2 linked regions of the Homo sapiens genome follow. The protein of the gene in region 2 interacts with the protein of the main gene of each other region in a pairwise test. Each region holds a gene or a part of one and is shown on either strand. Other genes may lie near its edges.

Region 1 (3,500 bases), on a different chromosome or scaffold from region 2:
AAGTTAACCATTAAAAAGTCCTGGGCTTGCACAAAGGTTACTTTCTGAATATAAGTAGTATTTAGCAACCATAAATCAGTATATTACTTCCCAGTCAGAAGGACCCAGGAGATGTAAGGGGCCTCAGAATTACTATGAGTCCTCAAATTCAACAACATGTATGTTTCTTGTTGATTTTGAGGTGCAATTTGAATATTCAGCTGTTGATTTCTGCAATGGCTGAATGTTGAAACTACACCTACCATTCTATTGAATATATCAAATGTTATAAGCAGAATGTACACACAAACTTATCCACATGCATGTTCATCACAGAGCTGTTCTAATAGCAAAAAACGAAAAACAAACTCATGTTCCATGTCAGGAAAGGGGTTAAATTAATTACAATTCATATATACCACGGATATCACATCCATTTAAAATGAGGTTGAGGAGGACAGAAAATATAGGAAAGTGTTTTCACAATATAGTTCGTGAAAACATGAGACAAAGTATATACAAAATAATGTCATTTCTGTTAAAAAAAAAAGTTTGCACAGAAAAAAACAAGATTGTACACCAAAATTTCAAGTTAATTTCTGTAGGTGGTAAAATTATAACTGATTTTATTTTCTTCTTAGTGCATTTCTTTGTCTTGCAATTTTTCTACCATAAAGGCAGAGGTTTACAGTCCCTTATCAACAATTCAGAAATCCAAAAAGCTCTGAAAATATATTTTCATAAGTTAGCAGCAGTCATTTAGCTGCAAAACCTGACCTACGCTGATATGAAGCGGCTTCATATTTATCCCATTTAGTCAATATTTACAGGTTTTGCTGTAGAAATACAATGTTTCCAGGGTGCTGCCACAGTCCCACTAGGGACTCAATATACAATATTGAGTCAGCACCCTGAAAACATATCTGGCCCCAAGGTTTCAAACAAAGGATTGTGGACCTGGATTGCTTTGTAACTTTGCCACCATTGCCAATTTTCAGGCTTTTTAAAACTATGGGACTCTTCATAGTTTAAAAGGTTGGGAGCTTCTGCTGTGAATTATTATAAATGTTAAAATGGCAACATCAATAAAAGATATGTCCTTAACAGGGTCCTCACTCTGATTCATCAAGGGTGGCAAGCACCTGGCTCCCATTAGATGATTCTAGCAGCTGAGGGTTACCAAACCCTTGCCATGTGCCAGGCATTATATGCCTTACATCCTTTAGCTCATTTAATGCTGCTTTAGAAGATAGGCACCATCCCAGGCCCATTATATATATGAAGACACAGAGGCGCAGAAAAGTGACTTAATTTGCCTAAGTCACAAGGCAGAGTTGGGTCAGAACCTGATCCTTAGCCACCATAGTATGTCCTCACCACTTAAGTAGGCCAGGAGGCAGTTCTGCTTCCTGGATCAGTGGTAATAATATCACAAACAGATACAACTATCTTGTTTCAAAGCAGAGACAACTGACTTGTTTTAAAAACTCTTTTTTGATTTGTAAACTAAACAAACTTGATCTACAAATTACTGAGAAAGGATAAATATGAAGACATACCATATAATTTCCAGTATTACTACCATTAACTCTAACCACACCAAAGTTATGTGAAGATGTTCTATGAATGTAACATATTATACGATATAATTTTCTCTACCACAGAAAATCTCCCAATAATCCTTTGGAAATCAGTGTGGGAAATATTTTCTGAGAGCTCTCCAAAAAAGAGACCAAGTTCCTACCCACAGGAGAGCCTGATTTTTCTAAGAACAAACTCTCCACTGTCTACTTCTGGGGTTTCCTTAGTGTTTCTGGGCTAAAAACCCAGTAATTTACTTTCCCTATGAAAGACTAGGGCAGAAATAGCCTGGACTTCCTTTTGCAAACCAGAATTCACAGCTGTTTGGGGTGAACAATCCAATGTGGGAAAAAGAACCTCCTGAAGGGATTTTTCTGGCCAAGAATGTAACTTTCACTGGGACCATAACCTCCTATGACCCGTGAACATGCTGAAGCTACTAGATACAAGTCAAATTCTTCAGATCACAAGCTTGTTTCATTGTTTCCTGTCTCTAATTTTTGCAACTAAGAAAGTAAAAACTGAACTTCAATTGGAGGATGCAGGAAAAAGGGAGACCACTGACTTTAAATCTTAAACTTTGTAGTAAATTTTCTTTTCACTGCAGCCTCAACCTTCCACCTTCTGGGCTCTAGCAATTCTCCCACCTTTGCGTCTCTGCCTCCTGAGTAGCTGGGGCCACAGGTGCATGCCATCACACTCAGCTAATTTTTTATTTTTATTTTTTTTGAGATGGAGTTTCGCTCTTTTTTGCCCAGGCTGGAGTGCAATGGCACGATCTTGGCTCACTACAACCTCTGCCTCCCAGGTTCAAGCAATTCTCCTACCTCAGCCTCCCAAGTAGCTGGGATTACAGATGCAGGCCACCACACCCAGCTGATTTTGTATTTTTAATAGAGATGGGGTTTTACCATATTGGCCAGGCTGGTCTCTAACTCCTGACCTCAGGTGATCCACCCGCCTCAGCCTCCCAAAGTGCCGGGATTACAGGCGTGAGCCACTGCGCCTGGCCTAGTTTTTTTATTTTTTGTAGAAACGAGGTCTTGCCATGTTGCCCAGGCTGGGTAAATTATCTTTAATTCTAAGTAAATGCCTTACTCAGTTTAAGATTAGGCACCTTCTAGATTTTTACATATAAAGTAACTACCACAAAAGTCATTTCCAAGCATGTTACCTTTTTTTGTTTCCTTTTGTTTTTTAACATGGGAACCACACTCTGCTTTAGAGAAAGCAAAAATGTAAGTACAGCAATTCCAAAATGCAGGAACAGGGCTGCCCTCCCAACAAAATCACACTTAAAGGGAGTATTTTAAGACATTCTTGGCTGGGCGTGGGGGCTCACACCTGTAGTAATTCCAGCACTTTGGGAGGCCGAGGCAGGCAGATCACTTGAAGTCAGGAGTTCGAGACTAGCCTGGCCAACATAGTGAAACCCCTGTCTCTACTAAAATACAAATATTCGCCAGGTGCAGTGGTGCATGCCTGTAATCACAGCTACTCAGGAGGCTGAGGCACAAGAATTACTTGAACCTGAGAGGCAGAGGTTGCAGTGAGCTGAGATTGCACCACTGTACTCCAGTCTGGATGAAGGAGTGAGACACTGTCTCTGAAAAAAAAAAGAAAAAAAAAAAAGGCCAGGCACGGTGGCTAACGCCTGTAATCCTAGCACTTCCGGAGGCTGAGGGTAGACTGCCTGAGCTCAGGAGTTCGAGACCAGCCTGGGCAACACAGTGAAATCCCGTCCCTACTAAAATACGTGCGCCTGTAATCCCAGCTACTCGGGAGGCTGAGACAGGAGAATCGCTTGAACCCGGGAGGTGGAGGCTGCAATGAGTCGAGATCGTGCCATCGCACTCCAGCCTGGGCGAGAGAGAGAGACACTGTCTCAGAAAAAAAAAAAAAAAAAAAAAAAAAGAAAGACATTCTTGAAAAACTATTTT
Region 2 (4,018 bases):
TATCTCTCCTTCCCTCGGACTTCCTGAAACAGAAGCTCAGCAATTAGACATCTAATAGGCACCTAGGCTCCGCAAGCAAGTGGGGGCTTTCCTTGGGTTTCCAGTTTTGCTGGCAACTAGCTGTCGCTTTATTTAACTGGCAGTCTGTGCTGCATCTGACCCAGCACAGTGGTGAGGCTGTCGCTGCAAATGGCCGGCTGAGCTCCCGTGTCTTCTTCTGACCACGTCTATGAGCAGAACATGAGGAACAGAGGCTGGGGTGGGTGGTCTCTGGCCCTCAGCCTCCTTGTACCCCACACCAGCTGGTGTCCCTTGAGTGGAGCCCTGGGCTCAGTACAGAATGAATGCGGGGCTGGGGTTCTTCCTAGGAGCATGCCCAGAGGCAGCAGAGCTGCGCAGCCAAGGGCGGGCACCTTGGCTCTGAGGGGCTTGTCTGGGCCACTTTCCTGCGCTTGGCCCAGGTCGATGAGGCTGGGGCTTTGATGGCCAGGCAGGGTGCACTGATTGGGCTTGGCTGGTCCCACCCATGGTCTGATTTTTCCCCCATCTTAGATCATTTGGGGTACCTCCCAGCCAAGCCTGAGTGTAGGGGGATGGCTAATGTAGCTTGAGTACCCTGAGAACTGATTTGGTGCCTGAAGCCAGATTACCTCTCTCTGCTCTGCCAACTCTTTGAAAGCGGCCTCTTGCCTTGCACAGGCCTTCGAGGAATCAATACCTACCAGAACGGCATTTACCTTTCTCCTGGTGCCAGGAGAAGCCTCTCTCCTGTTCAAAATCCATTCCCAGAAACCACGGGGGCTCCCTGGGCAAGGGTAAGGGTGAAGTCCTGTCTGAGCTCTGCCCACTTCCCCGTGTGACCTTGAGCCTATGGGGCAGCCAGCACCAGCCTTGGCCACCCAGGGCTGTTAGGAGGCCAAGGAAAGCCCTTGGTGATGATGACAGGGGTTTCTGAGTGGACAAGAGACCCTCCTGGGCACACAGAGATGCTGCGAGAGCAGCTCCATCCCTCCACTCTGCTAATACCTCTGTGGGGACATGACTTTCCATTGCCTCCCTAGGAGATTTAAACAGAAGAAGAAACTGAAGAGGAGAGAAAGAACTGAAGCCTCAGTGCATAGACATTCTCTCCTGACAACAGGCCCAGTCACATGATCTGGGCATTCACCTCTCTGAATTCTGTGCATCCTCTGTGGAGGGGTACCAGTCCCACCTGTTCCAGGCAGTCTCGCCTGGCTGCTCTGGGCCACAATGACCTCCCACCAGGGAAGCTCAGCCCCTAAGTTCAACCTTACATTCTTCCTGTCCTGGGCGGATCTCTCCCTGGCCCTCTGAGGCGAACCTAGGAGGTCTTAAGAATTTTCACTGTCCTTTTCTGCCCCTCCAGAATAGTAAACAGAGTGAGGAATGGACAAGAGAGGTTGAGAAACTGTTCTATCAGACTCTGGCTTCGCAAATCACAACTAAATTTTATGTTGGACTTGGGGCATACCAGGTACCCCTTGGGGAAATGAAGTTGCAGGGGGAGGCTGTGGGTACCAAGCTCCCCAGCCCATGGCTGTGGCTCTTCAGGGAAGACAAGTGACGGCAGGCGGGGTGGAGAAGGTAAGATAAGTGTTAAAGAATTGATGTCAGATGGCCTCAGTGTTGTGCCAGGGGTGGTGCCTACCTCCACAAAGCCTGGTCCTGGGACTGTCCCCACACTGGGGCTCCCAGGCTCTGAGAATTGATGTGGGGTCTCTATAAATAGCGTCATTCCATATTGATCATCTTAAAAAGACACGGTATGTTCTAGGCCCACGGATAGGAGAGTTGTGTCTAAAAATAGTCTCATCCCCAGGAACCGCTGCCAGCCTGAGGCGAGTGGTGTAAGCTGTGCATAGCCGAATGGGCAGTCTGAAGGGGTGGGTCAGAAACAGAGGCACAGAACCTCTCCATCCCTACCCTATTCCCTCTGCTCCAACCCACAGAGTTTGCCCCTGCCTCAGGGCCTTTGCACTTGCAGTTCCCTCTGTAACATTCTTTCCCTAGACCTCCTCGGGCTTGGTTCTTTCATGTTATTCAGGTCTCAGTTCAGTCTCCTCCTTCAAGGGGCTTTCCCTGCCCAGCCAGTCTAGAGTCACCCCCACGTCTCTCCATCACATTGTCCTGTTGTATTTCCTTCATAGCACTAGCCCCTATCTCAAATTATCTTCTGTATGGATTGGTTTAATGGTATCTCCCTACTTGTATGTAAACTTCATAAGAACAATTGTTATAGCTTGTACACCTTCTAGAACCTTCCATGGCCCAAAGGCATGAACTCTGCCTCAGACCCCTGCATCAGGGCAGCCTGGGCTGGCAGCAGGCTGTGGGGCTCTCCCGTCCCAGGCTTCCCCTGCAGCCCTGGCCAGCCCTGTCGTGGGTCTGCTCCCCACGGGGCCCAGCCTCTGTCCACAGGCTACTCACTGGCCCTGCTTTTTCCTCTCTCTGCCTTCTTCATGTATTTAGCCGCAGGGCTTTTACTCCAGCTCCCTTCTCCCAATCCTATCACCCTGGATACCTGCCCTAGACAACTTAATCTTGTCCCTAAATACGGCTTTCTGGAACACCCTTCTCTCTGCAGAGCAAGGGCTCCCTTCCCTTTCTGCCTGCCACCCCCAGCAGGAATCACATTTCCTGCCATCAAAATCTCCCTCCCAGAGATTCACAGAAAGAGTTATTCCCTCTACCCAGGCCTTCCTGACTGCCCCCTGAACAAACAGTAACCACTACACACTTCACTGGTACGATCTTAACTCACAGACCTGCAGCCCTCACTGAGGGAAAGGCCTTCCCCCAGGCTCCTGCATGGCGATGTGCTGCACGGACACGCATGCCCACAGTGTCCACTCCAGGCTCTCCCGACAGCCCTCCCTGACCCCACCCCTCGCCAGCTCCCTTCTATCTCTCTCCTCCCTCTTCAACCATCAAACTCTTTGAAAGAGCTGTCTATACATGCTGTCTCCACGTCCTCACCTCCAGCTCGCTTCTCAACCCACTCCAAACTGGCTTCCATTCCCACCAAGTCACTCATTCATTCATTCAACAAGAACCTGTCTGTACTGGGCCCTACATTCTGCGGGCGCTGAGTGGAGTTTCTCCTACCAAGGTCACCAGCACCCTCACCATGGCTCGATCTAATGGACACTTCTTTTTAAATTATTCATTCTTTTTCTATCTATCCATGAACTTCTGAGAATGCACCTTAAGTCTCTCAGCAGAAAGAAACAGGGCACTTTCCCTCCCCCCGAGCAGGGCACTCTCCTTGCCTTCTGCAGCGCCTCCTACTCCTGGCTTTCCTCCTACCTCTCTGGCTGCTCCTTTTCAGCCTTCTCTGCAGACTTCTCCTGCTTTGATGGTTGGAGTATTTCTGGGCTCCTGACTCAGCCCCCTTCCTTCTTACCCTCTACACCACGTTAGAATCACCTGGGTGCTTCCAAAACTCCCGATGCCCAGGCCTCATCCCAGGGTCAAATGAATTAGCATGTCTAGGGCTGGAGCCTGAGCATAGGTATTTTTACTTAAAGCTTTCCAAGTGATGCTAATGTCACCAGGAGTGAGAACCCCAGGTCTGCACTCTCGCTGGGCAATCTAACTCAGTGCCACATCTCCAATGACCAACCTCTGCTGAAAGCTCTAAGTTTCCATTTCCAGCCCAGATCTCCATCCTGAACATACTTCCTACCTGGACCCTTCCCTCCAACTACCTTCTGGATGTCAGCATCTGTCCCTGGAAGTACAACAGGTTCAAATCAGAACCATGAAACATCTGTCACTTTTCCTTTGCTCTTCATCAAGCTTGCCAACCCAAATTTAACTTGCCCATTCTTCTTCTCATGGTGCGCCAGGGGGCAGCACACCTCACTTAGTGAGACATTGGAGGTGGGGAATGGGAGAGCAGCATGTCACTTGACAGAGAAGGAAGATGGGACACCATAAGTTCTATTACCTGTGGTAAGCTGCCAGTCGCCTCTCCTTCAATGGAAAGACTTTGCAT

The links.
Region 1: the proteins of SCN5A (region 2) and ANKS1A interact in a two-hybrid assay, tested with the Homo sapiens proteins (one large-scale study listed by BioGRID).

Annotation. Positions count from the first base shown.
Region 1 is NC_000006.12:34,895,755-34,899,254, reverse strand, and holds part of ANKS1A (ankyrin repeat and SAM domain-containing protein 1A), read right to left. Parts: intron 1-3,500. UniProt on the Homo sapiens protein: Regulator of different signaling pathways. Regulates EPHA8 receptor tyrosine kinase signaling to control cell migration and neurite retraction.
Region 2 is NC_000003.12:38,642,905-38,646,922, forward strand, and holds part of SCN5A (sodium channel protein type 5 subunit alpha), read right to left. Parts: intron 1-4,018. UniProt on the Homo sapiens protein: Pore-forming subunit of Nav1.5, a voltage-gated sodium (Nav) channel that directly mediates the depolarizing phase of action potentials in excitable membranes.